4 separate regions of the Homo sapiens genome follow, and all the other regions are linked to region 1. Evidence: fine-mapped expression QTL. A gene starts in region 1. Each other region holds a variant in brackets. All regions are shown on one strand. Distances are from middle to middle.

Region 1 (8,102 bases):
CTGGGTTGTGTGTGTGAGTCCTTGGGTGGGGGTGTTTTGGTGCTCTGTCATCCAGCACCGCTGGGGTAACTCTCAAGTATAAGGGGCCATGTGGGATGCTGGGAGGACATCAAAAGACACAGGGGACTTAGTCTTGCTTTCCAAAGGCTTCCAGAGTGATTGAGGGGCCAGGAAACACACAAGCACATGCATGAAAATGAGCCAACAAATGCATCAATATGTACTAAGTCTGGCAGCAGCCGAGCTTGGAAAAAGAGACCAATAGAGCACTTGCCCGATGTGGACTGAGGAAAACTCCCTGGAGGAGATGAGATCTGGACCTGTCTGCTGCCTGCTTGAGCGAGAGATGAAGGCATTTGCCCACAAGCCCTGATGGACCAAAAACAGATTCAGGACCAAATGCTCAGGAATTGAGATCTTTGGTGCCCCAGAGCTTGACTATGGGTAGGGATTTGTGGCAAGTTGCCGAGGCAACCAGAAGACCTTTCAGAAAAGAGAAGAGTAGAAGTGGGCTTGGAAGACAGAGAGGAACAGGGATGGAAAGGGAAGAAGAGGGTTGATCAGTCTGGGCAAAGCACGAGAGTGAAGGGGTCAAGGCGTGAGGCCGGGGGAGTGGGTGAGCAGGGTAAGATGTAGGTGGTGCTGGTGGTGAGAGCAGGCCAATGACAGAAGGAGCCCATGTGATGCGGCGGGCTTGGACTCTGGAGTGAGGCAAGCGTGGCTTGTCAGTTACCTGCTGGATGACTTTGGGCACATATTTCAACCTCTATAAACCTAAGATGCCTTTTCTTTAAAATGGGGCTAAGAGCTCCCACGACGCAGACTTTGTGTGGTATTTAAATGCAATGTGGCTCCTAACAGCATAGTTGCTGCCTGTAGATGTTAGTGTCTCTTTCTTTCTCATTTTGTCTTTATTTCATAAATGCACAGTACATAAGTAAGCCAGGAGAGAGTGTGTGGCTCACACCTTTCCTGCATGTGGTTCTTCATATCCCACACACCCACACTGATCCTGGGGACATCACAGGAGATGACGGGCCTGGTCTGGCAGCACTGCAGCTCCAGCTCTGTTGGGCTGCCTCGAAAGTGGGCAGTGGAAAAAGAAAAGGAGTTTGATTCAACAATTGGAAGAGTCTCAGGAATTGACTTATGACTTGGACACTTTTTTTTTTTTTTTTTTTTTTTTTTACTTTTTTGGGCCTGTGCTCTCACTTCTCTGTGAGGCAGGTTAGATGATGTGACCTTTGAGGCCCCATGGATGAGAACATTCTGTAATTCTCTGTGTACTTGTTTATAGGGCCCAGTTCCACTTGCCTGTCTTTGAGCCTCTTCCCGGTTCAGGGAGGAATGTCACTTGAATTGAAATCAGAAAACCCAGATTCTGCTTCCAGATGTGTCTTTTCCTAGCCGGAGTGTCTAGAGGAAGCCACTTAATCTCTGAGAATCAGTTTTCTGTTTCATGAAATGGGTTGAGAACAGCTTGATTGCCTAGTTCTCAGGGCTCTTGTGGGATGCTCTTTGCATATGTGTTTGGTGGGGTGAGCTGTGCAAATGTAAGCTATGGTGAGGTTTATGGCACTTATTCCTGCTAGTCCTGCATTTCTCCCTTCTCACAGGAGCACCTGGGGTATGTTTTGCAGCTAAGTTGTCTACCAATTCCCTGACCATTCATTCAAACCTTTGATTTTTCTGTATGTCAGTTTCTTAGTTCAAAGATGGGAGTGTGGATCACTGCCAAGGTCTGTTTTTGGCTGGCACACACATGCACACAAACATGTGTGCACACAAACATGTGTGCACACACATACTCACACCCCTCCAAAATGCTAGAAGGAATCGATTGTGCAGAACAATATGTCTCATGAGGGAGTATGCTGAACTAAAATAATTTTGATTGCTTGTCAGAAAATGATTAGGCAACAGTCATTACCATGCCAAGACTGTCCCAGTCTCCATTGTTCCTAACAAGACCTGAATTACTCATTCCCTAAAGAGATGGTTGGTTTAGCAGCCGAAGGATTTTAGTGCTAGGACAGAGTCCCAGACAGCAGTGCCACAGTGATGGCGAGGGAGAGGAGTAGCAGGGGAGCGGTGAGGGGCACTTTCTGGAGGAGGGTATAGGGCAAAAACTGGGAGGAGAAGAGGGACAAGGTTCAATAGCGGAGTGCAATGGAGAGGACCGACACAGCCAGCCCGATTCAGAGCCACAGAGTAATGGGACCAGATGATCTTCACAGACTCCCTTTCTCCCATAGATCTTGCACACCATAGTGGAGACTTCCCATGTACATCTATGGTTTGCCACTTACAGAGTTACTTGGAGCCAGCTGAAGTTAGAGCTGGCTTCTCCCCTTTGAGTCTTCAATTCTGTGTTTATGTGCAGGCCCGGGGACCATGCCAGGCTTCTAAGAAGTCTTCGAATGAAAGTCTGCTTGGGCTTCTAGTGTGTCCAGATCTCAGTGCCACTATTATCCACTGATATTGATCAAGTGCTGCTCTCCAGGAAGACCCCTGAGGTTTCCTGGTCCATTGCAATGCATGCTGGGTACTCTTGCACTTGGATGGAAGTAAAATCTCCTCACTAAACTCTGTGCCACCAAAATCTCCTTCTCAGTGTGAATTGAAGAAACATTTTCCAAGACTTGCATGTGCCAGGAGCCAAGGACTCAGAGTGATAAAACAGGCCTTCTGCCCTCAGAGCTCTCTGTGGTGGGGCGCTTCCTGTGCTGTCTGGCTTTACACACAGCAGGCAGAATGACTTGAATTCGGCTGCTGTGCTGTCGTACAACATGCTGTTTAGGATCTTGCACATGATAGCTAGGTATTCTTGCTTCAAATCGCAGGCACCCCACTTACCAACTGTGTAGACTTGATCACGTTATTCAACCCCTGTGTCTCTGCTTCCTCATTTTACAAATGGGGAGAAAAATAGCATCTATCTCAAAGTTGTGAAAATTAAGCAAGTTAATACATATGTGCTACGTAGAACAGTGCCTGGTACATGGTCAGTTTTTGATACATGTTAGGTATTATCATTATTATCACCTCCAGAAACAATTTAAACTTCTCATATAAGGCTCTCCAGACACCTCTCATTGTCTTCCCTTCCAAATCTGCATTTATCTCTCTCTCTTTGCAGTCCAGTGTGAGGCTTGAATCACCTATCAAGCCTCACCTCCACCCCTGTGCTTTACAAAATGTCCTAGAGCTTCTATTTACTCGTCTCACTGCTCTGTGGGCTTTTTCACTCAAGGGCGTTTGCATGCTATCCATTGCTACCTGTTTTCTATTGCTGGTGTCTGTCTCCTGCTCTATCTTTGAAGAAAAGAAACAAGAAAAGGAATAACTGAGAAACAGAGAAAAAAAATGTCTCTCCCTTCTGGTTCTTCCAGACCACCCACTCATCCATCTTGTTCAATGACAGCTTCTCTTCCTTTAATTAATCACTGTGGTATATTTATAAAGCTTATATTTATGAAAGACCTTTTAATTTTTTAGTTATTAAAGCCCTTTCTCTTTGTCAGGTTGTAACTGAGTGAGCTCTGGAGTTTGGAAAGAAGATCTTAGAAATGGGCCAGAGAGCTCCTTCTGAGATCCAAGCACGGGGAATTGCACCTGCTGTGCATGGTAAGAGAGTGTGCTTGGTAGCTCACAAAGGCAAGGTGAGAATAGAAACTTTCATGCCTTTTTGATGGGGGTTATGAAATCCTACCAAGAAACACCAGGTATCAGATGTGGGGTCCTGTTTTCCCAAAGCCACAAATGCTTGAAGGAAGATCTTGTGTGATAAAATAATTACCACATGAACCAATCTTGCATGCACAGCAATTTTGAGAGCCCATCCTGGGAGCTAGGTGTGTAGTGTTTATCGTATTGTTGAGGCTCGTAAAAATCTTGTATGGCTGCAGGCAAGCCAAACCCTTGACAGGCACTGCATCTCCGCTGACTCTAGAAGACCAAGCCCAATTTCTTCCCTGTATATAAGGGGAAGTCTCTATGCTTGGGGTAGAGGAGTGTTTAGCTCCTTCCCTTACTCTACCTTGCTCCTACTTTTCTCTAAGTCAACATGAGTCGACAGTTTAGTTCCAGGTCTGGGTACCGAAGTGGAGGGGGCTTCAGCTCTGGCTCTGCTGGGATCATCAACTACCAGCGCAGGACCACCAGCAGCTCCACACGCCGCAGTGGAGGAGGTGGTGGGAGATTTTCAAGCTGTGGTGGTGGTGGTGGTAGCTTTGGTGCTGGTGGTGGATTTGGAAGTCGGAGTCTTGTTAACCTTGGTGGCAGTAAAAGCATCTCCATAAGTGTGGCTAGAGGAGGTGGACGTGGTAGTGGCTTTGGTGGTGGTTATGGTGGTGGTGGCTTTGGTGGTGGTGGCTTTGGTGGTGGTGGCTTTGGTGGAGGTGGCATTGGGGGTGGTGGCTTTGGTGGTTTTGGCAGTGGTGGTGGTGGTTTTGGTGGAGGTGGCTTTGGGGGTGGTGGATATGGGGGTGGTTATGGTCCTGTCTGCCCTCCTGGTGGCATACAAGAAGTCACTATCAACCAGAGCCTTCTTCAGCCCCTCAATGTGGAGATTGACCCTGAGATCCAAAAGGTGAAGTCTCGAGAAAGGGAGCAAATCAAGTCACTCAACAACCAATTTGCCTCCTTCATTGACAAGGTGAGTTTCTCTCTCATTGCACTGGTAGGGCTGCCGCTGGTCCACTTGGGATTGGTGCAGTCAAAACACAGTAGGTTTGAACCTCAAGTTTCCATGTTTACATGATTAAAAGGATGTTTTGTGGAATGGTCTCCTAGGAGATATGTTAGATGTATGCTTGTGAATGGTGTTAATGACTCTCTCTTTGACAAAGGGTTCGTGGTCGACCTAAAGGTGGGTCAGTGTGACATTAACATTTAAGTGCTTTTTATTCAGCTCTTGAGCGGAATTGGGACTCATATCTGTTGAATGAAGATAATAGAAATGGGGCTAACTGAACTTTCCAGGGTGCAAGTGAGAACCCTGGAAAGGTCTTCCTAACCATAGAAAGGGAGTTGAGTGTGAACATAGTATAGAGTGTTATTGTAGCAGAAAACATGTGGTCAGTCAGTGCCAAACATCTTTTGCTGTCAGAGGGGAGCTCTGCCTTCTAATAATTTTACATTGGTACTGGATGAGGCTAGAGTTTTTTTATACTAATATCTCCAAAAATCAGCTCTAAAAAACTCAGATAAACCATTTTTTTAATTTTTTGCTTAATCATTAATAGTGCCAATCCAAGGTTATCCACAACAAATTTCAAATCCAATTTTGAATTTTCCTGATATACTTTTGAAATGTGTGTGTGTCCTGGGGATGCAAACCAGTTTTTATGGTAATATACCTAACAAAATTTTGGAAGGCAAATCTCTTAAATACCATGCACCTATTTCAAAACATAATTGCAATAATTCTGTATGCGCTTTGCTATTGGTATTTGTTTAGTTACTCCCTTCCAAGCCCTCTCTGAATTAACAAGTTGGGTTTTATTATGCAGATGATATTAACTTGATCATCTTCTTCCTATTTCTCTGTCATGGTCAGAAGATAGGAATTGAGGTTCTTTTCCAAATGAGGCACAGTTCTCCATGGCTATGAGACTCCATTTATGCATCAGGAGTAAAGGGGTCTTGTGTTTTTAGGTGAGGTTCCTGGAGCAGCAGAACCAGGTACTGCAAACAAAATGGGAGCTGCTGCAGCAGGTAGATACCTCCACTAGAACCCATAATTTAGAGCCCTACTTTGAGTCATTCATCAACAATCTCCGAAGGAGAGTGGACCAACTGAAGAGTGATCAATCTCGGTTGGATTCGGAACTGAAGAACATGCAGGACATGGTGGAGGATTACCGGAACAAGTAAGGGACCCTGTCTGGGCAGTTCTTAACTTTTGCTGTAAAAGAGTTCCAGAAAGTAATAAGCTAAGATCATGAAGCAGCATGTAGCTATGTCTTTTCTTAGGTTAGAGGCACATCAGTTTGACATTTTCAGAAATCTTCATTTTCTCAGGAGATGGAAATAGTCTAGTGGTTTTATTGCTCAGTAGAAAGTAGTGGCCAATATGTCCTAGGTTCATAATAGAAAGGCAGTGATAGGCAATGCCACCTTTAGTTTAGAATGCTGGACTTCAGGTCTTACCACCTCTGAATCTCCTAATTGTTTCTGCTTTCCTGCAGGTATGAGGATGAAATCAACAAGCGGACAAATGCAGAGAATGAATTTGTGACCATCAAGAAGGTAAGCAAATTCTGTAGGACGGAACTCACATTTGAAATAAATAAGGGAAGAGGGTCTCCAATTACTAAGCAGAAAGCAGCCATGATATGGAGAGCCAGGTAGTAGACCTGGGGAGTATATGGAGTGGGGCTATATTTTCACATCATCATGGACCTGGACTGATCCAGGCACTTGGCTTCTCCATATTTCCCAGCACCTTACATAGTAAGTGGAGTGGCAGATTCTCAGCAAGCCAGGCACACTCCCTTGATGGTGCTATCCGGGGGTGGGACAGTTAGGGAACTGTGATTTACCTGGGGCAAAAAGGAGTGGAGTAGACCCAAAGCTCCTTTTTTTGCTTGGAGAATCCCCTCACAGGTAATGAGAGGGACCTGCCCTGGAGAGAATGTGCCTTCATGATGTCCCTTGTTCCTCTAGGATGTGGATGGTGCTTATATGACCAAGGTGGACCTTCAGGCCAAACTTGACAACTTGCAGCAGGAAATTGATTTCCTTACAGCACTCTACCAAGCAGTAAGTCTTCCAGTTTCAACCAAGTTTATCTAAATGGAGAGTTTTTAAGCCTGAACCCACAACGATTCAGAAGAATAGATATTTATCTTTTATTTTCTGACTGCTTTCTCTGTCTAAGTTGTTTTTTGTTTTAGTGCTGTAAGAGTCACTAACCTATTATGTCTTGCAGGAGTTGTCTCAGATGCAGACTCAAATCAGTGAAACTAATGTCATCCTCTCTATGGACAACAACCGCAGTCTCGACCTGGACAGCATCATTGCTGAGGTCAAGGCCCAGTACGAGGATATAGCCCAGAAGAGCAAAGCTGAGGCCGAGTCCTTGTACCAGAGCAAGGTGAGTGGGCTGAAAGCCTAGCCAGTTTCCCTGAAATGGCTTGTCTTGCTATCCTGTGTTATCTCATGTATGTGTGCCTGTGCCATGCTGAGTTCTGCCTACATTTAACAAACGCTATCTACCATCTTTAGTATGAAGAGCTGCAGATCACTGCTGGCAGACATGGGGATAGTGTGAGAAATTCAAAGATAGAAATTTCTGAGCTGAATCGTGTGATCCAGAGACTTAGATCTGAAATCGACAATGTCAAGAAGCAGGTATGTGCTTTCTCCTTCTACCACTCAGCTGTATGGAATGGGGGTAACCCTCAGGTAAAGGGCGAGTGCTTTCCTAGTTTTGAATCTTGCAATTCATCCCAAGGCTACATTATTATCCCTGGTTCCTTTTGTGACTATGCTAGTTTCCAGAATGCAGCCATCATGCTGGGTTCTCTTTAGGGAAATCTGTGAGAATGGCCTAGTAGAGAAAGATGGGATGGTCAATGTGAGTGATCTAGCCTATGACCCAAAGTGGACTTAAGAGTTGGGGAGTGAGAGGAAGGGCAGCCAGGAGGTTTTAGAGTAGGTGTTTAGAAGAATGTCAAGTCTGTAAGGGTTGTAGGAGCCTTGACTCAGGGCCAAGAGAGGCTGTTGAGTTATCCCTAAGGTCTTTTAAGGAAGTCAACATGGTGATGTGTTATCTGGAGGTGGGTGTGAGATGACTTAAGGCCAAGTGGTTCTGTTGGACTCATTATTGGCCTCACTGGAGTGGGGAGACCAATTGGGATGAGGAGGCCTAGTGGGGAATGCATATTATGAGAGGGTGTCATATTCTTTTTCAGATCTCCAACTTGCAGCAGTCCATCAGTGATGCAGAGCAGCGTGGCGAGAATGCCCTCAAGGATGCCAAGAACAAGCTGAATGACCTGGAGGATGCCCTGCAGCAGGCCAAGGAAGACCTGGCCCGCCTGCTGCGCGACTACCAGGAGCTGATGAACACAAAGCTGGCCCTGGATCTGGAGATT
Region 2 (8,102 bases), 110 kb after region 1:
GAAATTCTTCCGGGGCAGCTTCCAGGCCTAAGCTCCACGCTCCCTGCCCAGGTCAGCTTCTCCTTTTCCCTCCCCAGCAGTGGGAGCAGTTGTCTTCTGCCCTCGGCTGGATCCAAACAAGCCAAGTGTTCTCAGTTTAGTTATAGGAAGTGGTCAGAGTCTTGCATGAGGGCAGCTGCCAGATACCTAGCTTTGAAATAATTTTTTTTGTTTTTTGGAGACAGAGTCTTGCTCTGTTGCCCAGGCTGGAGTGCAGTGGCACAATCTAGGCTCACTGCAACCTCTGCCTCCCAGGTTCAAGTGATTCTTCTACTTCAGTCTTTTGAGTAGCTGCGACTACAGGCATGCACCACTGCGCTCGGCTGATTTTTGTATTTTTAGTAGAGGCGGGGTTTCACCATGTTAGCCAGGCTGGACTCAAACTCCTGACCTCAGGCAATCTGCCCTCCTTGGCCTCCCAAAGTGCTGGGATTACAGGTGTGAGCCACCATGCCCAGCCCTGAAATAATTTTTTAACATTGCACTGTACCCACACTACCTGAGCTATAAAGCAGTGATACTTCCTGTTTGAAAATTGAGTGCTCCCTGAAGTTGCCAGGAAACTGGCAGAACAGCCCACCCTGAACCTGGGAGTGAAACTCAGGGGGTCCTGTTCCTTGGTGACTTCAGCCATAGGGTGTTTCCCCAGGGAGTGCAGGGGCTAATATCCCAGCTCCTGCCTGACTTCCTAGAGTAGGACAAATAATCTTATCCAGGAGAGAAAATCCAACTGGAGGAAATGCAGCTGACTGGAAAGGTTCTCATGGTTGTAAGGCAATGTCAAGGTCACCACCACCCAGGCCCTGCCCAACACAGAAGGCCCTAGACAATATCCCTGCTAGGGGGGCATGCAGATGCTGCAGAGTCATTCCTCTTCCTTCCTGGGGTCCACTTCACTGCTAGACAGCTGTGGTCCTTAGCATGGCCCAAGGACGGACCCTGGAGCTTCTTACCCAGATCCAGATCTTTGAGGACATCTTTCCAAGAAGAATCATCTTTCCATGTCTTCTTTTCCCTGAGGTAAAAATTCCAGCTTCCACACAAGACCCTATAATAGAGAGATGGTTTCTTTTGGGAAGAAACCTGGGGTTTTTCAGGTGAGTCTACTCTGGGGAAAGCCAGGCATTTCCCCTGCTCCTTGCTGATGGTTAAGCAAGAAGGAGGTAGCACTGGAAAAATAAAGCTAGGAGATCTCTTCAGGGGATAACTCTTCAGGTCCTTAATTAGGGAGCACAGATAAACTCCAAATTAGACCACTCCACTCTGCAAGGGCAGCATATTCCACTTGCTATCAGAAGAGCTTTGTTGCTGCAAAGGGCTTGGAGATCTCTGTTCTACAAATTGCCCATGGCCCCTGGCCCATCAGCAGGGGAAAGGAGATAGTGGAGAGACGCCCTTTTCCGGTGTCCTGGGCTCAACAGGGATAAAAGGAGGCAGCACTCTGGGTGCCCCATCAGTGTGTTCTCTACCCCTTGGAGACTGCTTTTCTCCAGCTCTGTCAACTCAACCTTTCCCACCATGAGTCGGCAACTGAACATCAAGTCCAGTGGTGACAAGGGCAACTTCAGTGTGCATTCGGCAGTGGTGCCAAGGAAGGCTGTGGGTAGCCTGGCTTCTTACTGTGCAGCTGGCAGAGGGGCTGGCGCTGGCTTTGGCAGTCGGAGCCTCTATAGCCTTGGAGGGAATCGGCGTATTTCTTTCAATGTGGCTGGTGGCGGCGTTCGGGCTGGAGGTTACGGCTTCAGGCCTGGCTCTGGGTATGGAGGGGGCCGGGCCAGTGGCTTTGCTGGCAGTATGTTTGGCAGTGTGGCCCTGGGGCCTGCATGTTTGTCTGTGTGCCCACCTGGGGGCATCCACCAGGTCACTGTCAACAAGAGCCTCTTGGCCCCCCTCAACGTGGAGCTGGACCCTGAGATCCAGAAGGTGCGCGCCCAGGAGCGGGAACAGATCAAGGTGCTGAACGACAAGTTCGCCTCCTTCATTGACAAGGTGGGTCTCATAGGAGGAGGATGAGGCCGCACCCTGAGGCCTGAGCAGTTTTCCTGCTGCCTGGGAATGGACTGCACACTGTGGCTGGAAAGGTGCAGCTGGGCCTCAGGAAGGGCTTCCTCACCATTAGGGAAGGAGAGTAGGTCTGTGAGCCACGGAGGACAAAGGAATACATGAATATATCGGCTTCTTTGGCGATTTTGCAGGGAAGGATGGGAAGCTGGGTAAAGAGCAGCCCTTCCTTGACAAAAAAGTGATGAGTTTCTTGAGGACAGCTGGATCTTCCAAGAACATGAAAGGCTAATAGAATCCAGCAGTGTTCAGAGGGAAGGGCTCATGGTACAGGAAGAGACACTTAGTTGAGACATAAGGAAGGACATCTCCTGGGACCAGGGCCGAGCAATAGAAGAAAGCTGTGGAAACTCCTTGAGTGAGTTCTCAGTGATGCCTTGTCCAGAAGGCTAGGAAATGAGCACTTGTAAAGGATCTAGTTTGTGTGGAATGGCAAGGGTGGAGAGTCAAGACATGAGCAAAAATGACTACAACAATCTATGGCAAACCTGGGGAGTCAATGGTGTGTGTCCAGGGGGCATGACTGCACCCATTGTGGTTCCAGGTGTCTGTTGATTTGGGTTCCAGGTACGCTTCCTAGAGCAGCAGAACCAGGTTCTAGAAACCAAGTGGGAGCTGCTGCAGCAGCTGGACCTGAACAACTGCAAGAAGAACCTGGAGCCCATCCTTGAGGGCTACATCAGCAACCTGCGGAAGCAGCTGGAGACACTGTCTGGGGACAGGGTGAGGCTGGACTCGGAGCTGAGAAGCATGAGGGATCTGGTGGAGGACTATAAGAAGAGGTGAGCAGGCTCCACCCGAGGGTCACAGACCATGTTTCCCGTGCCTCTGGGCTCACCTGATCTCTGTGCCATTATTTTTTAGGAGATGGGGGAGTATGCACCAGGGTCAGGAGCTCACATCCCTTTCTCTGGCTAGGGGGAAGGGCCTATCCTCTTTGATGATAACTTCCTGCCTAGTTGATAGGAAGCGGTTCCTGTGCTCCTTGACCCACTGAAATGTTCAGTTGCTGGTGTCGGGAGCCCAATAGGCACCTGGGTGTTTTCCTAACATGCAAAAACTAGGAGACAAGTGAAGCAACTCAGGGATATCTTACTCCTGTCACTAGCCTCTTACTGCTCACCCCAGAGACCCTGCAGGGACCCTGTATCCCAAACATTTGCCTGGCCAGCAGGAAGAGAAAGTTCCTTGGCTAAGGGGGCTAAGGCCATCTACTCTCCCTGCTGGCAGATATGAAGTGGAGATTAACCGGCGCACGACAGCAGAGAATGAGTTTGTGGTGCTTAAGAAGGTAAGAGAGGGAGGAGCCTCCTTATTAGGGTCTCTCGCACCCCCATCTTAACAACTCTGCTCAGGACTTCAGCCCAGGAGGCTGGGGAGGGGGCTGGTGCCTGGTGAGGGGGCTGGTGCCTGGTGAGGGTGGAGTCATAGTCCTGGCCTCCAGTGAGTTGGAGAGGAAAGACACACACTCAGGAAATGGACAGAGACAGACAGAATTCTGGTCTGGGAACTGTGAAACTCGGGTCCAGCTCAACCTTGCTGTGTGACCTGAGGAAACCTACTACCTCTCTGGGCTTTGTTTTCTCCAGGCATAACAGAGCTGCCCCATCCTCCTTTCCCTATTCCCAAAGCTTCAGGCAGCCTGAGAAGAAATTGATATTGAGTGAGCTTTCCTTTGTGGGTAGAAAATAGAAAATCAGGTGGCTTTGAGGCAGGAGTTGGGCAGGGCAGCTGTGGGATGAGGGTTGCATCCCCCAATGACTCTGGGGCCTCTTGGCAGGATGCAGATGCAGCCTACGCAGTCAAGGTGGAGCTTCAGGCCAAAGTGGACTCACTGGACAAAGAAATCAAGTTCCTCAAGTGTCTGTATGATGCAGTAAGGACACTCCTGTCCCCCCACCCTCACCCTGCCTCCTTCCCGACTCTTCCAGGGAGATACCAAAAGGAGAGATTTAGGATCAACAAAATGAAAGATGTTTTGGTAGAAAGGTACAAAACCCTGCACCAGGAGACCATGGAAGTGCAGGATGCTGGTCCTTGGAGGCCATACATACAGGAGGAAATTGATCTTGATACAATAGTGGACTTGCCCACGGGCAGGAAAAGATAACCCAGTGAGGTCTTACAAAGCACAGAGCCTTGGATTCTGTGAAATTGTGGAAAATGCATTATTCACCCGTCTGCATGTGCCAGCGGGCATCTGCCATATGCAGGGGTTCCTGCTGCTGTTAGCTGCTCTCCCTCAGCTCTGCAGACACATCCCAGAGGGCACTTCTTCCCCCTACTTTGTCCCCGTGGATCCTAGCAGCCTATTGGGCCAGGGACCATGGGCCCAGAAGACTGATGGGGCAGAAGAGGGAAGCCAGGG[G/T]GTTGCTGAATCTGTCTTCCTCTCTCAATGCAGGAGATCGCTCAGATCCAGACTCACGCCAGTGAGACCTCTGTCATCCTGTCCATGGACAACAACCGGGACCTGGACCTTGACAGCATCATCGCTGAGGTCCGCATGCATTATGAGGAGATCGCCCTGAAGAGCAAGGCCGAGGCCGAGGCCCTGTACCAGACCAAGGTGGTCACCGAATGGGTCTCCTCCCACAGCAGCCCTTCGCTTCCTGGGAGGGGTCACCTGCACAGTGAATGTGAGGAATACTTTTGTGGGCATGCTGAATGAAAGAAAGGTTCCAACCAAGGCTTCAAGGAAAAAAGGAATTCTTAGCAGAGCTTGTTATCAAAGATAAATCATGAAACTGGTATGGATTGAATATATGCAACAGAGAGGATCCCTCACTTCTTTCCTCCATCCACGAACTGCCTGTTCCTCTCTGTTGCAGGTGAAAGAAGTGAGGTGGTAAAACAAACACACTTATAGGAATGGGGGCATGTTGCCACAGGGCAGAGGGAGAATCACAGACTTGCGGGAGTGTAGCCATGGGTGAATTTGGTGGGGGGCGAGTGAGAGAAGGAGAAGCCTGTAGCTCTTTCCTGATCCCCACGGGAAGACTTTCAAAAGGAAATGGAAGGCGAGGAGTGCTCTGAGTAATGGAACTATGCTTTGGGTAAACTGAGTAATGGAACTATGTTTGGGGCTGTCAGGGAGAAAACCCCTTACCTGGGCCCCCAGGACCCTGTCCCAGCACTCCTCTTCAGTTCCGTTAAATCCCACCGACAGCCAGGGTGGCAGGGGTGGCTTATTTACAGGACCCTTCCCCAGTGCCCTTGTCTCATCACCAACTTCCTATCTCTGGGAAACCAGATCCAGGAGCTGCAGCTGGCAGCCAGTCGGCATGGTGACGACCTGAAACACACCAGGAGCGAGATGGTGGAGCTGAACCGGCTCATCCAGAGGATCCGGTGTGAGATCGGGAATGTGAAGAAGCAGGTGGGCAGCAGCCCCACAAAGAACTCCCGGTCTCCACAGCAGGCTCTGGGATGAGGAAATGGGGCCTGCCCTTTGGGAACAAGCAAATATCCCCTGCTGGGCTTAGGGGTCCCTCGGCCACCCACAGTCTCCCTTTCCCACCCTGCCTCGGTACCCTACCATCAGAGCTGGTACCCCGCCCAGAACTGGGAGGAGCCTCAAACCTATTTCTCTGACTCCTCATTTTGCAGATAAAGCAACTGGGCTGGGAAGGGGAAGGGACTTTCCCAGAGCCCCCAGCTGGTAATGAATGGAGCTAGGATTAGAACCCAGGTTCCCCTTCTGCAGATTTTTTCTGTGTCCAATGAACCTGCCCCATGTCCCCTTTGGGTGCCCCCTCTGAGGGCAGACCCTCTGTCTCCTCCTCCCACTGGACATGGAACATGTGTGGGGTGCAGAGGGTATGCATCAGGCGCCTCTGTTGGCCACACCAGGTTCCTGCTCTCGGAGTGGGGCATGGTCTGTTGACTGAGGGACACAGCTGTCGATGAAGCCCTCCTGGGTTCCCTTGCCCTGTGCCATGGTACTACTTCCATGTTAGTGGGCGGGGGGGTGGGGGTGGGGGGCCTGTCTTACCTGACAGCAGCAAATTTTAAACACTGCGTCAGTGGGGAGATGATATTGGAGGCTGGAGGATCCTTCCTGTGACCTCTCTGAGAACCAGGTCTGCTCTGCTAGTGATAGAATTGACCAGCGGAAAGATCTGAGCCTGTTCTCCTTCTGGTGCCCCCACAACCCTCCATGCTCTGCAGGCAAACACAGGGACAACTCTACGACTCTACATTTGGCCGATTCACAAATTCCATGAGCATAGTTCCTCCCTCTCTGTTAGCAACAGGCATCGCAATGCCCCCCAGATGTTCATCAGAGTCCAGCTTCTGAGGTTGTGCCTATAATTTAGGGCCTTATCCTCCTGCTCTAAGGGAAGGCCAGATGTGGGAGCCTTCACACAGACTCTCCCCAGAGTGCTGGAGTCCAGAAACACTCATCTGGATGCTAACAGATCAGAAGGATCCCCAATGGGGAGAGGTCCTGCAGCAGGAATCTGATCACAGTGGGACCGTGGCATACTGTCTCATCCTCAGGGCTGGCCTTGCTAGGGGATCGGGCATGATTTTCCTGAACCTGTAGTATTTTGAATCTGTAGATACTGGTGGCCTCCGGTCTCAGGCACTATCTAACTTTGCAAACATCGACATTTCTTCCTGACCTCCTGAAATGCAACTGCTTCCACAGCTTCATGTGATAACAGCTTTGAATACTCCTCTGCAATAGAAAATAGAAGAGACAAAGTTCTGGTGTTGGCTTTGCAGCTTTTACTCCTTGTCACCTAGGGCCCCATCTGCAAAATGAGGGCATTGTTCTACTTAACTGGTATGAGCTAAATGTAATTTTCTGTTCTGATGGTCTCTCTGTTCTTTGCCCTTCAGCGTGCCAGCCTGGAGACGGCCATCGCTGACGCTGAGCAGCGGGGAGACAATGCCCTGAAGGATGCCCAGGCCAAGCTGGATGAGCTGGAGGGCGCCCTGCACCAGGCCAAGGAGGAGCTGGCGCGGATGCTGCGCGAGTACCAGGAGCTCATGAGCCTGAAACTGGCCCTGGACATGGAGATTGCCACCTACCGCAAGCTGCTGGAGGGCGAGGAGTGCAGGTAGGTGGGGTGGAGGGGAAAGTGTGAGAAGGGACTGGGGTGTGGCTCCTGTCTGGCTGAGGGGCCACCTGGAGAACAACATGGTTAGTGCCAATACAAGCAAGAGATGTGGTGATTTCGTGAACTCAGAGGCAGCTTCCTGCAAGGGGTTGTTGGACATGAGCCATGAAGCGTAGATGGCCGTGTGCTGCTGTGATGAGAACCGGGGGCTCAGACAGACCTGGGGCTAATGACTGGCTCTTCAGCAGGGGCTAATTATTGGCTTTATCCTATGCTAGTGGTGTGGTCTCGGTAAATCATCTAGTATCTCCAGGACTCTTGTTTTCTCATCTGTAAGATGAAGGCGATAGTGTCAGTTTCGTAAGTTGTTATAAGGATGAGTTTAAATGATGCACGTATAAAAGCAGGAGCCCATTGATGTTTAGTGGAATCTCGACACTGAGTTTTTATCTTTCTCTAACTTTCTGTCTCACAGGATGTCTGGTGAGAATCCATCCTCTGTGAGCATCTGTGAGTATTCTTGAGAGATGCCTTGGGTTGGGAAAGCCAGGGACCCTGGGACAAAGTGATGTCACCTCCATTTACTGTCTCACCTCCCAAGAAGCTTCTGTTACTGTCTTGGGAAGGTTTCTGGGCTTCAAAGGAAATGTTCTCCCTTTTCATCCTGTGAAATGGTGACTGAGGTCATGCCCACCCTTTTCCCTTCCTGTTTCTCCCCTGGGACGTTGTCATTTGGAGAAAGGGTTGGTGGACATGGATTTTCCTAGCATTTCCAGGAGGGCAGGGACTGTATCTATCTGATGGGGTCTTCACCTCACACGAAGTCCGGCCCGTAATAGGCTCTCAGTTCATCTCTGTAGTGCTTCTTGACTACTGAGGGTGGTTCTGCGGATTAAATGAGGTGTTGTTGTGGAGAAGCCCTTGGGGACAGCCGTT
Region 3 (8,102 bases), 26 kb after region 1:
ACAAGAGATATAAGCCCCTAAGGAGCTTACAGTTGGGGAATCAAGATATAATGAACTCGTGCCTTTTGGGCCCTGACTGATGGCAGCTCCTGCCTGATGGCAAACCCTCCTATTCAGCTGCAGCGTACCTGTTTGCCCTTCTCTCTCCTCTCTGGCTTCCCTTTGTCTACTTTACTGCTGCCATTTCTTCCTTCATCTCTTGGTGAGAAAATAACCGAAAGCAGGGTCTGTGTCTGCACATTTTGTCTCTACGCTTTCCCAGAGTTTGCATCTGCTCTCAGGGCTTTAGCTATTGTGTCCATTTAAAGCACAAACTGATGTCTGAAATGGAAGGAATCGGTGTAGCCCGGCGCCTCCACTTTACAGATGAGAAAATCAAGGCTCAGAAAAGCTGAGGTTCCTTAGGTTCTGGAGGCAGTTGGCCACAGGAATGCATGTCCTCTACCTCCTTATCTAGGAGTCACCCTGTTCCTGTTGGTTTTCAAATCCCTCAGTCCACAGGGGAGGAAAGGGGGACCCAGCAAGGGAGGTGACATGCCAAGGTGACAGGGCTGGCTTCTGGCAGAGGAACCCAACCTTCACTCCTAAACACATTCCTCCCAGTTTATCACATGGCTTCCCTTATAAATGTACTTCTAAATAGAGACTAATATACTTCTTTGAATACCCAATGGACTATGAATTGTGCCTATGGCTCATAAAAATATAATTCAGGTCGTAAATTTAATAATCTCACATGAATGACTATACTAGCTCTGTTAAACATTAATTGCTTAATTAGCAATGATTCCACCTGCTTTTTTAGAATTGAAAGGCTTTTAAAGAAGAGCCTGTGGTGGAAAAAAAAAGCCGTCCAGAGAATTTTGAGCAGTTTTATTTTCCTTTTTTTCTTTGCTTCATAAAAATCCCTGGAGCAATCAGGTCATTCAGAATCAAGCCTTTGGCCTTTGCTTCCAACGTGAGGCATCCCAGCACCCACAGTCTGACGGTGTGTCTAAAACCTTTGTTGCTAGAAAGAGGAGCAGGAGTCTCTTGAATTTGGTCTTATAAAATTCAATTAACTTTCATGCTTACTCTCTCTCTGATTTTTTGGTGGGGGGATGTTTTCCCACCTGCCTTCTTCTGCAATGATCTCTATCCGAACAAATGCAGGAAGCCTTGAAAGAGCTCACAAGGGGGTGGCGGCAGCTCTCAGTGATGGGACAGAGAGGTGGGGCTGGTGTGGGAGAGCAGGTGAGGGCTGGGATGTCTCTTAGAGCTTCCTGTGGTGCATGGCACAGGCTGCTGCTGAAGAACTGGCGAATGCCCAGGTGGAGGCATCCAAAGTGAATTCCAGCTGTCAGTGGCAGCAGCACAATATAGCATTAGTTGGAAGGCTCCTCTAGATGGAGAAGTTGGGTAAGAAGGGGGCAGCATTAAATCTGGTGAAACCTGGAGAAGTCTGCACTGTGAGGGTGGCGTGAGTGGTATGATTACAGCGACTCCATTTTTCTGAAATCATGACCAGGATGGGATGGAGTATTTCACAGCTGTCTTGTCCTTCCACATTTGTGTGGCTACACAGATCATGGACAAAATATGAATATCAGTGCAAGAGCAGAAGGAGAACGTGGTCCGGGGAAACAGTTCGGCTGGAGTGAGGACTGCACCTGGGAAGGGCAAGAGCTTTTCACAGACGACCCTTTGAGGCTTTCTCTGTGTGAATGAAGACTTGCTGTAGTTGGGAACACACAGCCACATGTCACACTAGTATCATTAACTAGACCACAGTTTAGCAAACAAGGCCCAGGCCCCCGGGAGTTGCAGTAGCCTATGGCATACAGCAGAGCTAATTCAACTGGAGACTGATCCCACTGAGAATAAAGCTGAACTGTGTCACTTGCCATTTTCTGGGTCAGATATTCTGGGGTCCATTTGGAAAATTAGACCTATACATGACATGGCCTTGGCTATGGGAAAGGAGGTGACTCGCTCTGTGCTAGGCGCTGATGGCTCATATCCTCTTGCTAGACAGCTGTCTTGTTCAACCAACATGTGTAGGGTCCCTGCTGTGCACTGGGCAGTGTCCCTGCCCTCTCTCCTCTTCTGCTTCTGGGGCCAGCATTGTTTCTGAGCAGAGGACACATCCTGCTTTCCTGATAAGCCTGCCGTGTGTGTCCTGGAATCTCCTCGTTCCAGAATGGGCTCTGTACAGTGGGAATGTTTGGTGCTTCATGCTCAGGGTGGACGTGGCTGCCTGCCAGCCTGGCTCCTCAGTCATAACCAGTTTGGCCAGAGCACCTGAAAATCAAACAGCTACCTGTCTCGCTGTAAGAAAAGGGGCCGATCGAAAAAAAAAAAAAAACTGAAAAGGAGATGTTAGGTAAGAAAGGAGGGGAGCCTGGGCCAAAATGGAGAACTGGGTCAGGGGCTGGGAAGAGAGACTGAGTAGGCAGTTTTAAAATGATCATTTATGAAGGAATGCCCTGGAGGGAGGTGTTGAGCAAGTCTCTCCTGCTGGGTGTCTGTCAGCCTCCTGTCCCTTCTTTTCTGGGAGCCATGGGAGCTGCAGAGCTCCTTGGAGCAGCACCTGGGCGCTCTGATGGAAGGTACCCGGAGCCAGCAGCCCATGCAGAGGCCAGGCAGCCGCTGCCCATGGAGGCTTCTGCTTCCAGCTGACCTGCTGCTCAGCTTGTTCCAGCCTCCTGCTGACTCGCCTCTCTGTCTTCCTAACTTCTTTCATGACGTTATTGGACTCTCTAAGGATTTTGGTCCTCTTGAGCAGCCTGAGCCCAGCAGCAGGGGCTGGAAGAGGAGGGTTTTTTTTTTGTTTGTTTTGGTTCGGTTTTCTTAAACCCAAACTCTTGGTTTCCATTCCAAGGTGGTAGGAGCCAGATGCCCCGAGGGCTCAGCAGCCGTCTCCAGCTGATGCACTGAGTCTTTGGGAAGGAGAGACTAAACTCACTGGCTGGAGGAGAGAACCCTGATCAGGGCTGAGACAGAAACCTGAGACAACTCCAAGTGGGACCTTTAGGCAACAGGTCCATGAAAGGCTGCGAAGACTTCAAGCATTGCCAGCATCACATGCACACATCTGGAAACACCTGCAATTCCAAACCAAAAACCAGAGAAATGATTTTTTTGGAATACAGGCTTATTCTTCAAGTGATTCTCTGTGCTGAGGGGATAAAGGTTTGGGTTAAAGATAAATATGACCTTGCCTCTACCCTACAGAAGTCCTGGGACATGGTTCATTGTCACACAGGGAGGACTGTGATGATGAGGCTGTAAGGCAGGTAGATACGCCACTGCTAAAGGAGAACAGAAGAGAGGGAAATGAATTCTTACCTGGAGACTCTGGTGTTAGCATCCACACTAGGTTGAGCATTTATTTCCTGTTGGCTAGACAGTTAACCCCTTCTCTGCTTAATACTGGGGGCTCATTTTTTCTGCCCCACTGGCCAATAGACGAGCTTTTGAAACACTATGAGGAGAAGCATTTAGGATCTTGGACTTGCTGGCAGTTTGTTGAAAGAAAAAGTGGGGAACAGGAAGAAGGATTTTGTTCTATAGGATTCCTGTTCTCTTCTCAGAGACAGTGAAGCTTAACACTCTTTGCAGCAATAGCTCGATGTCCTTGTGGGACAGTAGGGATTCAGGATAAATATTCCTATTTTATAGATGAAGAAATTGAGGATACCAGTTGCGTAGAGGCAAAATCACAACCAGACCAAGATTCTTAACTTCCATTTCACTCTCTTAAAGAATGCAAAGCATATTATCTAGGAAAGCACATTGAGATTATGTAAAAGTTGAAAATTTAAAAATATAGAAATAAAATGTTACATAATATTCAAATTGCATTAATTCTAGTCTCCACATTTCAAAAGAGTAGGAGGACTCTTTCAACTTGACTTTCAAAAATTGGTGAATGGGTCTAGAAGGAGAAGATGTTCAGTGGAGAGAGTGGGGAGGGA[G/T]ACCAGGGTGTGAGGGCAGAATTAAAATGCAGTAAAACATGCAGATTGGGTGCCTAGCACAAATCTGGCTCAATTTCCTTCATAGAGGCATTAAGACCCCCCTGAAGCTGCCATAGTGTGAGCACAGTCATGGTGGAGTAAGGGACGACTAGGGCATTGCTCAGATATCTGTAGATAATGACACATTTTGCTTTGGATTGAGACTGTCTCCAAAGCTGTTAGCTTCATGATTTGTTTGCATGATTATAATTATGCAAACCAGATTGGAAAAAATAATTGAGGAGACATGTAGCTTTGTTTCCTTCAGCATTCTTTTACTGCAAATTAAATACCTTGAATAGTAGTTAAGACAGGATTGGAAACTTGGCGGGGAAGATGCAGAAGGGTGAATAGCATTTATTGAGTTTCTGCTATGAACTAGGAACTGTGTTTAGCACATGTGTGTATTGTTCTGTTTTCACAGTAGCCATATTCTTATTATTCTTGTTCACTTTTTATAGATGAGGAAACTGAGGCTTGAAGAGGATTATGGATTATCTGAGGTCATTTAACTAAGATACAAGAAAATTGGGATTTGACCTCAAACTTATGTTTTTTACATTATTTTGTGATAACTTGGTACTAGGATCTGAACCACCTGGTTCTGTAATTTATGATGCCTGTGGAGAGTGCATGTTCATAGTAGCCAGAAGACAGTAACATGGCAAGGGGGAAAGGAAAAGGAATTATCTTTGTCTCACCCCAAACAATAATGATACTGACATTTTATTGTGCACGGTGGTTTTCAAAACACTTCATACGAATTTCCCATTTTATAGCTGGGACCACAGAGCCTCAGGGTTTCATTCAAGGCCTCACAGCCAATAAATAGCAAAACTGGGACTCAAACCCAGAATTTCTGACTAAATTCAGTTTTATTACTCCAAGAACCTCTCCCACATAGTTGGCCACATGGACAGAGGAAGTGGTTGAGTTTAAGTGTGAGTGCTCTGTGCAGGCTGGATGGTCTTCTTATCCTCAAGCATCTGTGGATGTCATTGAAGAGCCTGACTTCCTAATCACTTCCCAGGATCACCAGGCAATACGTGATTACTGACTGACTGAATCAATATACACTTGGATCTTGGTTTGCAAACTTTCACTTGGTGTCCCGCATCACACAGGTCCAGAAACAGCGAAACTTTTCTCATACCTCTCAACCTCTGGGTGTTCATGTAGACAAGGGACAGTTGATGGTTATACAAACCATCATGGTTATAAAAAATCTCTATTCGGTGCCTAGTTATTGTGTATTTTTGGTGTGGCATGGGAAGAAAAGAGCCAAGATATTTTGAAAATCGACACCTCTTTTGCAGTATCCGAGGCCAATTACTTTCTGTAAGAGGAGGTCGATTTCCAATTAGCATTTAAGGTCATTTAAGACCTTTGCAGTCTCCCCTGCACTAGTTGGGGCTCTTTCTGGGAAAGAGGGAAACTACAAGAGAACTACAAGGCTGGCATTGAGGGGCTCTTGCAGTCTCTAAACCCACCATCCCTTTCATTGTTGAACTGGGGTGGTGAGCCTGCACAAGCATGGGTGGTAGCTGACTTCCCTTGGGCAGGTCCAGAACAGGGAGCAGCATTCTGCAGAAGGTCCTTTTCCAGATTGAGAAACCCAAACCCTGATCTCCTCTTTTGATGATTTTACAAAAATCAAATTGCATGACAGATGCCCAGATAAACAGAAGTTTGCAATCAAAGCAAGTTCTGGGATGGAGCTGATTAGTAGATTTTTAATGGCTATTAGCTTGATAATCACGCACCAGGAATAGCTCCCAGGCAGACCAAACCCACGTATAAGTGGATCCACACCCATGTACACAACACCTAGTTGGCAGGTATATAAGGGGACCCTGAAAGCCTCCCAGCAGCACAGTTGAGTCTCCAGCCTTGACTCTTCTCAAGAGCCTGTGACTTTCCTCCCTGGACAAAGGCATCATGAGTTGTCAGATCTCTTGCAAATCTCGAGGAAGAGGAGGAGGTGGAGGAGGATTCCGGGGCTTCAGCAGCGGCTCAGCTGTGGTGTCTGGTGGAAGCCGGAGATCAACTTCCAGCTTCTCCTGCTTGAGCCGCCATGGTGGTGGTGGCGGGGGCTTCGGTGGAGGCGGCTTTGGCAGTCGGAGTCTTGTTGGCCTTGGAGGGACCAAGAGCATCTCCATTAGTGTGGCTGGAGGAGGTGGTGGCTTTGGCGCCGCTGGTGGATTTGGTGGCAGAGGAGGTGGTTTTGGAGGCGGCAGCAGCTTTGGAGGTGGCAGCGGCTTCAGTGGTGGTGGTTTCGGTGGAGGCGGCTTTGGTGGAGGCCGCTTTGGAGGTTTTGGGGGCCCTGGTGGTGTTGGAGGTTTAGGGGGTCCTGGTGGCTTTGGGCCTGGAGGATACCCTGGTGGCATCCACGAAGTCTCTGTCAACCAGAGCCTCCTGCAGCCTCTCAACGTGAAAGTTGACCCAGAGATCCAGAATGTGAAGGCCCAAGAGCGTGAGCAGATCAAAACTCTCAACAACAAATTTGCCTCCTTCATTGACAAGGTGACTCTGGAGAAGACGGCTCCCACTGATGCTCAGGCCACTTCACTTCCAGAGCCAACCAAAAAGAAAATGGCACAGATTTGTATTTCTTAGGAGCCAGTGGTGTACCGCAGTAGCCTGGGTCATTTGCGGTTTCCAGATGGAAAAGACGCCAGCTTTGTGGGTTACATTTCCCATAACAGCCTGCACTTAGGAAGCATTTGTCCCTTTGACCTTATTGTTACAGTCCATATAAATAATATTTATGGAAAATTCTGAAAACCATAAAAAATGGATATAGGCAAGTATTGAACTGATCCTTGGGACAGGCCACTGGAGCAGCAGGTTTTGGAAGCCATCGTCTTCTGAGATAGTGTTTCCTTCCTTAGCAGTGATTACTAAACTCTGGGAAGCTGAACCTGAAATATCTGCTTGGGAATGCAGGAAATTCCTGCCTTCAAGAGAAGCGTTCTCAGTTTTGTGATCCATAAAGTCTTTATTGGTGTCACTTCGGAGTGTTACTGGCTTTTCTCCTATTTCAAGGCAGACGAACCTGTCTTGGTTTATCTGCCTTGAAATAGGCAGGGATTTACAAGGCTCTTAAAAATCAGGCTGAGGAGCCCTGCCCTCTGGGACTCTCATACTCAGCACCCTTGCGAGCAGTGCCAGCAGATGGCTGCTTTCGGTTTTCCCCAGAATTTATGGGATCTTGGCTGGAAATTCAACCAGGATGCGGGGAGGGAAATGGTCTAGAGTATTGGGAGCAGCTGCAAACAAACCAGTGAGCAGTGAAGCAGCAAAGAGTCTCCTCTGCGTGGAGAGAGCCGGATGTAGCATTAGGAGTCTGTGGGACTTTCCAGGGGCGAAAGCAGGGAGCTCAGAAGCTCTGCCAGTCATGACTCGGCATCCAGCCTCAGACACTTCTCGAGGTCCTGAAGCAGCACCTGAGCTGCCCCTGGCCAGCGTGGCTTGCTTGGTGTGAAGGATGATCTAGAACTCATGTGCTCTCCTTCTGGTCATGGCAGGTGCGGTTCTTGGAGCAGCAGAACCAGGTGTTACAGACCAAATGGGAGCTGCTACAACAAATGAATGTTGGCACCCGCCCCATCAACCTGGAGCCCATCTTCCAGGGGTATATCGACAGCCTCAAGAGATATCTGGATGGGCTCACTGCAGAAAGAACATCACAGAATTCAGAGCTGAATAACATGCAGGATCTTGTGGAGGATTATAAGAAGAAGTAGGTGGCAGAGTGAAACGCTGAGTGGAGATAAACATTGCACTGAGCCATTTGATCACTCCCTGGAAAGCCATTCATCTCCCAGTTGCATTTGTGGTGGTAATGGGGAGAGGCATATGTATCTTTGTTGATTATTTGTGAGGAAGACAGTGAGACTTTAGAGATCATTTTTGTCTTTTGTATGTTTGAGAGTTAGTTTATAAAAATATATCTTTAGTTTGGAAATCTTAGTTTCAATTTAGATATTTAAAAAGTGTGTAATATTCCCAGAGAATGGGGCATTTGGGGTGAATCCAGTATAAAAGGAAAAGAAAAAAAATGAAGGGGAACTAATCTAACTGCTGTAACATCTGTGTCCCAATAGG
Region 4 (8,102 bases), 200 kb before region 1:
TGTCCTGGAGACTGCTGAGGCCCTCGCGGGAGGTCCACGCCTGCACGGGCCTGGGGGCAGAAGCGCGTGGGCAGGACCCAGGAGGACAGGCAAGCCGGCAGCAGACAGGCCCCAGGAGAAAGCAGCCGCCTGTGAGCCAGCGGCTCCGAGGTGCAGCACGCTGTCGTTTTGGAGGCTCAGAGAGGGGAGTTGGGCAGCATCGGGCAGAGCCAGGGTGAGAACTTCCGTGTCCTCACTCTCAGTTCAGTGCGCCTTCCTCCACAGCACTCCTTCCAGTTGATCCCAATCATGTCCCAGCCTGGCCCAAACCCTTCCTTGGAGACACACAAGCCCCTGAGCTTGGCACTCCAGGCCCGCCTGACCCCGCTGAAGTCACCTCTGCCGTGGCCTTCCACTCAGGCAGCTGAATCCCCTGGGGGTTCCCTGAGGAAGTCGCACCCCCTCACACCCTTAGCCCCTGTGCCTGCTGTCCCCCTGTCTGCAATGCACCTCCTATGGCTGACCCATCCACTTGTGAGCCTTTCATCTTCCCAATTTAGTTAGGATTTCCTCCTCTGGAAGCCGTCCCTGCCCCTCCGAGGCTGGGCTCCCCCTACCCTGTGCTACCCCACAGGGCCCTTCTCACCACACCACAGCCTCCCCAGCAGACGGTGAGCTTGGCCAGGGCCCAGTCTGACTGGAATGCTTCTGTATCCCCGTGCCTGGCACAGAGCAGATGGTTGTAAATATCTGCTGTTAAATGAAAGAAAGGCCTTACTACATTCCCTCCCCACCCTCTGCAGCGGCAGCCTTGCCATCATGGAGGGAAGACACGCAGGCAGGGGGCTGTGGGTGTGTGCATGCGTGTGCGCGTGTGTGTACTGTCAGGTGCACATATGGAGGGCCTCAGGCACCAGAGACAAGGAATAATTCCTATGGGAGATTGTATGTGCATAGGCGCAGACAGGTACAGACAGGCACAGACAGACATGTGCACACCAACCCAGAAAGATGTGGAGCTTCATACACACGGGGAGATTTATTTAAAACAAAAACAATTTTCATGGAAGTGTAACATACATAGAGAGAAGTACTCAAGTCATAAGTCTACAGTGTGATGAAGTTTCACAAACTGAACAGATCATGCTACCAGCACTCATGTCAGGAAGCAGAGCAGAGTCAGCCCCCAGAAGTCCCAGTGAGAGCTGCATTTTTTTTTTTTTCCAGACAGGGTCTCGTTCTGTTGTCCAGGCTGGAGTGCAGTGGTGTGACCAAGGCTCACTGCAGCTGCAGCTTCAACTTCCCAAGCTCAAGTGATCCTCCCACTTCAGCCTCCTGAGTAGCTGGGACCACAGATGTGTGCCACCCTGCCTGGCTAATTTTTATTTATTTTTTGTACAGACAAGTTCTGACCACGTCGCCCAGGCTAGTGGGAGCATTTTGAACACCTGCTGCCTGACTCCTAAGCTGAAAGGCGGAGGGGGAAGGGCACAGGGAGGAGAGTCTGGCGCCCTCCAAGGGCCTGGCCTGCCCTGAGTTGCTCTAGGGGTGTTACTGCTTTTTAACCTCAGGCCCTATCTCTGATGACTTTCCTGCCACCGTCATTGCCCCTACTACTCCAGCACCTGGGTCTGCCGGGCCCTTGAACAGCTCCCTCCTGGGTCTGCCCGGCCCTTGCACAGCTCCCTCCTGGGCCAGCAGGCTCAAGGGTTTATGTGTCCTCTTCCCAGGTCCACCTCAGGTGCCATAGGGCTTCTACGGTTTTGAGCTCTTACCAGCCATTGGCTTATTTCTGCTTTCTTCCCCATGCCTGAGGGGCTGGTCTGTGAGAGGGCATGGCTTTGGCAGTGACATTTTGCAGCTCCTTGCCCCAGCCAGGCTTATCATGGCTCTTGGGTAGGGGCAGCAGGGATAAAACGAAGGCTACTCCGATGTCCTGGAACTGCAAAGCCAATGGGTGGGCAGTGTGCAAAGACCTGTCCCCCAGAGCCAGCTATCCCAGTGCAGAGCTGGCATGACTGTGTTTGGGACAATGACAAGAGCCTCCTGACACTGTGCAAGTCTGTGTGTTGAGACATGCATAGAGACGCTGTGTCCAGCTGTGCATATTTTATGGGGACTATGCATGAAACTATGTGTGAGATGGGGGTTTGGGACACCGTGTGGTGTGCTGGGAGTATATATGATTGAGTTGCACGTGCAGGGCTGTGTGCTGTGGGCCTGTGACAGGGAGTGCTGGTTAGGTATCTGTTCCAGTGGTGGTGTGTGTGCTTGAAAGCCTGTGTGTGTGTGTGTGTGTGTCTGTGTGTGTGTGTAGATGTGTTTGTTGGTTAGGGGCAGTGTGGACAGAATACCTTGTTTACAGTGGAACTGTAGTTCTAGATGTGTTTGCTGACTGCAACCAGGAAGTTACCTGTGGGGACCCAATGTTGGTGAGGAGGGGTCCACCTAAAAAGGAGAAGGGCTGGGTGCGATGGCTCATGCCTATGATCCCAATACTTTGAGAGATGGGAGAATTGCTTGAGGCCAGGAGTTTGAGATCAGCCTGGGCAACACAGTGAGACCCTGTCTCTGTGAAAAATTAAAAATTAAAAAATTAGTCGGGCATGATGGCATGTGCCTATAGTCCTAGCTTACTTGAGAGGCTAAGGCAGGAGGATTGCTGCAGCTCAGGAGTTCAGGGCTGCAGGCAGCTATCGCACAACTGCACTTCAGCCTGGTCAACAGAGTGAGACCCTGTCTCAGAATAGGTAAATAATAAATAAAATAAAAATGAAAAAGAAGGCACAGGGTTGGAGGTGAGAGGCTCTGAGCCAGGCTGCCCCTTCCTCGTGGGGTCTTAACTGCCTGGTCCCTTTCCTCACCTCCAGCTGTGGGGATCAAGCACCCTGCCTACCCACTCACCTGCAGAAATGGGCTAGGTGCGGCCTAGGCTGAGGCCCAGATGCTGAGATGGCAGGCCTAAGGAGGAGGGGGTGGGGCAGCGACGTGCCCGAGCAGTGGGCAGCTTGCCCTGTGCTGAGCTGGGTTGGCAGCTGGTGCTGGGAGCAGGCGGGGCCCCACTCAAGCAGGCTGGGGCAGGTTGGGCAGGGCCTGTCTCAGGCATGGAGGAGATGGAGCTGATGGAGCAAGCCCAGGCCTTGTTTGTGCCAAGATGGAAGGTTGAGGGGCAGTGGTGCGTGCTGTGGGAGGAAGGTGTGTCATGCTCATGGTCTGTGCACACATATCCCCATCGTGAGTGCATTTAACTCATGTGTGCATTTGATTTGCGTGTGCATTTGATTTGTGTGTGCATTTGTATTCCTCCTTCCTACGTTGTGTACATGGATCCATGGGTCTGTGTGAGTGCATGGGTGGTTGTGTGTTTGTGTGACTGGCACTGGATGTGCTTGTGTGAGAGTCTTGCATGGATATATGTTTGTGGGATGGTTGTGCGCCCGAGTGACTGTTGTGTGTACATGCTTGTTGGAAAGGCCTATGTGGCTTTTGCATATTATGTTTGGGGAACACATCTGTTGTGAGTTTGTGTTCACATAGGTGTTTTCTCAAAGGCATGTGTGTGTGCATGCCTGTTCCTCTGTGTGTACATCAGTAGTCCGGGTCTTAGGCCCAGAGGGCAGAGGGGCACTGGTGGGCTGTCCATTGTGAGTGCCTGTGGGGAGCAGAGGAAGAGGTCTAGGTTTTCTGGGTCGGGGCTTGAGTGGGTTTGGTCAGGCCCCTGAGCTGGTTTGTTCCTACAACAGCTTCAAACGTTCTTCTCACTCCCTCATCATCCTCTTTTTGGTGGTTCTGACTGTGTGTGTGTGTGTGTGTGTGTGTGTGTGTGTGTGTGTGTGAGTAATGACCTGCACACCATTGTGAATCTGTGTGTAATGACTCCACTGATTCCTTCATGTCTGTTGGTAACAGCTCTATATATCAGGTGTGCACCACATGAAACATGCACGTGTGTGTGTCTGGGCATCTTTGCAATGACCCCCACAGCTGGATCTGTGCACTGTGTCCAGCAGCCATTGTGCATGTGTATGTGAGTGTGTGTGTGTGTCCTACAAAGTGTGCGTGGGTCGAGCTGCAGGGTCCTCTTCCCCAGCCCCGGGATCTGGCATATCCTGTTGCCTACTCCAAACCCCACATGTACTGACTCTTGGCTTCTTTCTCCTTCCCACCCCAGTCCCTCTCACAGTCCTGGGGGATCCTCTCTTGGTATGGGAAAGCCTGGATGAAGTTGAAGGCTGGTCTCCCTGTGGAGGTGGTGGAGTTTCCCCCAGGTTTGCTGTGGGGCCAGGTGGAGGCCACTCCTGGCTAAGGCGCTCAGGGAACAGCCACAGCCGTGGAAAGAGCATACACTTTAGAGCCAGAGAGTCCTGGGTTCAAATCCAGATTTGCTCA[T/C]ATACTGTGCCAGTGTGACCTTGAGCCACCACGTAGGCCTCAGTTTCTCCCCGGTAAAATGGGGATTATGTTTGTTTTTGGAGTTGCTGTGAGAAGCATCGATAAGGTGAACACGAAGCTCCTAGCATGGCACACATGGCCCACAGTAGTCTCTGGACAATTGTGGGTCCTTTTCCCTTTTTGAGGGATCACTTGGTTTAAGATCACTTTTGAGATCTTGCTTTAAAATCACTTTGAGATATTTCAGGCACTGCTGTAGGGATTGAGCCTGGCCTGCAGGGTAGCATCTGGCCCCAGACCTTCAGGGGCCCTGGCACTGTGGAGGGGGCAGAGCCAGAGCTGGAGAATTACTCAGAGCTAACCCCTGAGGGGCCTGTCCTGGCCGCTGTGAGACAGAGGCACAGAGCTGCTAAGCTCTTCCCCACTTCTGGGGAAGTGGGGTGTAGGGGGGCACAGAGATGATCTGGAGTGGTGGAGGTCAGTGATGCTCCAAAGAGACCAACAGGCAGATTCCAAAAGACCACAGTCCATCGGCCACACTCATAAAGATCTTAAGACACAGAGACACCCCCAGAAAGACAGGCACACAACCTCCCGTTGTGGGGACAGAAGGCCCCACCGCCCATGGACAGACACACAGTCTCCCAGAAGAACAGATACCAGATTCTCCTCCCTAGAGCGGGACAAATTCTCCCACAGGGACAGAAACGCATTCTCCCCACAACACTCTCCTCTGCCCCGGGGGAGGACGCGAAGGGGGCGGAAGGCAGGCCAGGCTCCCCCTGCTGAGTCAGGCTCTCCCGGCTTAGCGGGCGGGTCTGGGGTGGGAAGAGGCCGGGCGCCCGTCCAGCTCCAGAGGTGGGGTGCTGGATGAGTCACCGCGGAGCGGGCGCGGCCGGCGCCGCCCTGGGGCCCCCGGCCGCCGTGGGAGCGCTCGGGCCCAGCCAATCGGCGGCCGCCACCCGGCTCTAGCGCTCTGCCCCGCCCCGCCGCGCCCCGCGGGCTTCCAGGTTCCCAGGGCCTCTAGCCGCCCCGAGAGACCCCTGACGCGGCACCCAGCCAGACTCCATGGTCTCTACTTCTGGAGAGAGGCTGTCGGTGACGGAGCACAGGGCTCTCAGGGGAACCGAGCGGAGACGTCTCAGCTCCTCTTCGAGGGGCCACTCCCCGCCACTCCCACCTGTGGATTAGGGGCACGGGTGGCTCTGCGGGGGGTGGGAGGCAGCCTCGCTCTTCTTCCTTCTTACCCCCCTCTGAGCTCTTCCCGGAATGTCTCTGCGGGGCACTCAGCTCCTCCTTGAAGGAGACAGGCTGCCTTGTTTGCCAGGCTCAGGGGCACAGGGGCATTTCCTGCTACGGTCTTGACGGCAGAAGTTCTCTGTCCACAGTCAGCAACACCACACGCTGTCATCTGCTTCAGAAATTGTTCTAGGGACAATACAGTCAGAAAATATGCTCAGAGGGCCACTGTCCCTAAGACCTTGGTGATGCCAGCTGCTGGCAGGTGCACCTGACTTGCACCTGGGCCACAAAACACACACACACACCCCACACACATGCACAGGTTTAGACGGTGCAGACACACACACAGACAGATGTTACACGATTCTCATATATAGCTCTTTATTTTCGGGCACACAGAGAGACACATTCAGCAGTAGAGGGAAGTCTCCTGGTTCTGCCTCTTACTGGTGATCTGACTTTGGGTCAATTATCGGATCTCTCCAACCTTATGGCCCTATCTGTAAAATGGGGATAGCTAGAATATCTTCCTTAAAGGATTGTCCGAGGATTAAAGGAAACAACACCTGGAGAGTACATTGAAATAATAAATGGTAGCTATGATGATCTCCCCCACAGATATATCCACACACAGAGGCATGGACACATGCAGATTTACACACACACAAAACCTCAGACATCAATACATGTATAGGAGCAGGCACATATCAACACAGGTGTATTTGCACAAAGATACAAAGACACAAACAGAACCCCCTGCCCCCACCACCAAGGAAAACAACCCCCGCAACAACCATAAAAGCAAGTTTTACTGCCCAGGGTGTGATGGGAGCAGGCAGCCCAGCTGGGTTGGGGGTGGAGGCCTCCGCGTCGGGCGGTGCCTGCCCTGCTCAGGTTCCCACTCAGCCCCAGGGACAGGACGCCTTCATTCTTCCAACACGCCACTCTCTGTCCCCAAGAGCAGTCACCCCATCCTTTCTCCACTGTCACCTGAAATCAGGCCCTACCCTCTCCCAACAGCATGAGCTCCAGGGTGGGGGCCCCCAGGGTGGTTGTGGTTGGTGGGAGGGCACAATGGTCTGGTTCTCCAGGGACGGTTTGGCGGTCAGCAGGGGCGGTGGTCCTCTGGGTTGGTGGATTCCGGTTTTGGGGATTTGGCTGCTTGGCCTGGGAAGTAGCCCGAGGGGGACCGCCAGCCCCTGGGAATGGCCCTCTGGGCCCTGGACAGTTTTAGGCAGCTCTGCTCTACTTTGCCTTGTGCAGCTCCCCAGCTCTTGCCTGAACTCCTTCCTGGAGCTGGGGGCATTTGGAAATGGTGCTCTAGAGCCAGGGAGAGCTAGAAGGCATCCCTGCTCCTGACCCTGGCAGTAAGAATCCTTTCCTGTTCAATCACGGCCATACCAGCCTGGTCTTCCAAGTAGTGTTTTCCCATTGCCCTGGTGTTTCCCCCGACAATGAACCCTCGGTTACTAGCTAATCCTAGTATCAGAGACTGCAAGGGACCCCCAAGGCTACTGGGTCTACATTCGAGGTAGAAAATTTCACATCTGAGGTCACACAGTGATTCTGTAGCAGCAGCAGTGGGATTGAACCTGGGGCTCCTGTCTCCCCATCCAGAGAAGCCCTGAGTCTCAGGGCTCCCACCACCTCCCCCACTGCCCATTTTCACAGGGAGCAGGTTTGTGCCCCTCCCGTGGACTATATGGTCCTAAGGGCTTTTGTTGAAGACCAGAGCAAGGAGATGCTTGGGCCCTGGCCTCTGGGACTCCCAGCCTGATAGGGGAAGAGAGTGTCAGATCCAGGCAACAGTGGAGCAACTGAACACACCAGGCCAGGAGGCTGGCACAGATTCTGGGAGGTTTATCAGGCAGTTGCCTGCAGAAAAGTTTTGAGGGAGAGGAGGGGCATGGACAGTCCTCTGGACTGTGGGGCGAGGGGTCTTGAGGGAAGGTGCCTGAGGCTTGCTCTGTCCCCTTCATAGAGTAAACTTGCTGCTTCCAGTTCCGGGGACTAGATTCTGGGGGTTGGCCATAAGATATCAGGTGACTCTTTGCTTAGAATGTTGAGTACAACTGAAATGGCCCAAATGCTTCACCCAGGCCTGGACCTGATGTAATGTCCTGTAGTATGACCTCCAGGGCTGACCCTGGCCAAGCTCAGGGGCTGGTCTCCTCGGGGGAGCTGGGGAAAGCGGTGATTTCTCTGATGCCTTGCCAACCTCCATTCTCTTGCTCTGAACCAACTCAGTCCAAGCTTCCCAGGGGCCAACTGACTCTCAGATGTGACCACGTCCTTCCTGAGGGTCCTCCAGAAGACTGAGAAGCCTTCTCAAATGCCCAGGCTTTCAACAACCCCCTTCCTGACTCTCAGATTTCGTGCCCCTACTCTCGCCCCCAGGGCCTGGATGAGTCAGAATGATGGGGCTCCCAGTTGGCAAGACTCAATTTTGCTGGCTGGGAGTTTTTTCAGGGTGCTAATTAAAAGGAGCCACC

The links.
Region 2: its variant is fine-mapped to the expression of KRT1 in whole blood (INTERVAL, PIP 0.95).
Region 3: its variant is fine-mapped to the expression of KRT1 in whole blood (INTERVAL, PIP 0.93).
Region 4: its variant is fine-mapped to the expression of KRT1 in whole blood (INTERVAL, PIP 0.99).

Annotation. Positions count from the first base shown.
Region 1 is chr12:52,676,313-52,684,414 of GRCh38, reverse strand. It overlaps KRT1 (keratin 1), which reads left to right and starts at 4,008. Exons shown (of 9, transcript NM_006121.4): 1 at 4,008-4,657; 2 at 5,659-5,873; 3 at 6,192-6,252; 4 at 6,670-6,765; 5 at 6,935-7,099; 6 at 7,231-7,356; 7 at 7,920-8,102. The coding sequence starts at 4,067.
Region 2 is chr12:52,567,233-52,575,334 of GRCh38, reverse strand. It overlaps KRT74 (keratin 74), which reads left to right and starts at 1,492. Exons shown (of 9, transcript NM_175053.4): 1 at 1,492-2,028; 2 at 2,668-2,882; 3 at 3,331-3,391; 4 at 3,881-3,976; 5 at 4,502-4,666; 6 at 5,351-5,476; 7 at 6,946-7,166; 8 at 7,642-7,676. The coding sequence starts at 1,558. RefSeq lists an enhancer at 2,898-3,067. The variant G/T (reference allele first, on the strand shown) is at 4,469.
Region 3 is chr12:52,649,974-52,658,075 of GRCh38, reverse strand. KRT2 (keratin 2) reads left to right here and starts at 5,865. Exons shown (of 9, transcript NM_000423.3): 1 at 5,865-6,518; 2 at 7,523-7,737; 3 at 8,102. The coding sequence starts at 5,934. The variant G/T (reference allele first, on the strand shown) is at 3,957.
Region 4 is chr12:52,871,512-52,879,613 of GRCh38, reverse strand. No RefSeq gene overlaps it. Among named protein-coding and RNA genes, the nearest start is that of MIR9898, 23 kb to the left of the region's middle. RefSeq lists a silencer at 5,161-5,390. The variant T/C (reference allele first, on the strand shown) is at 4,369.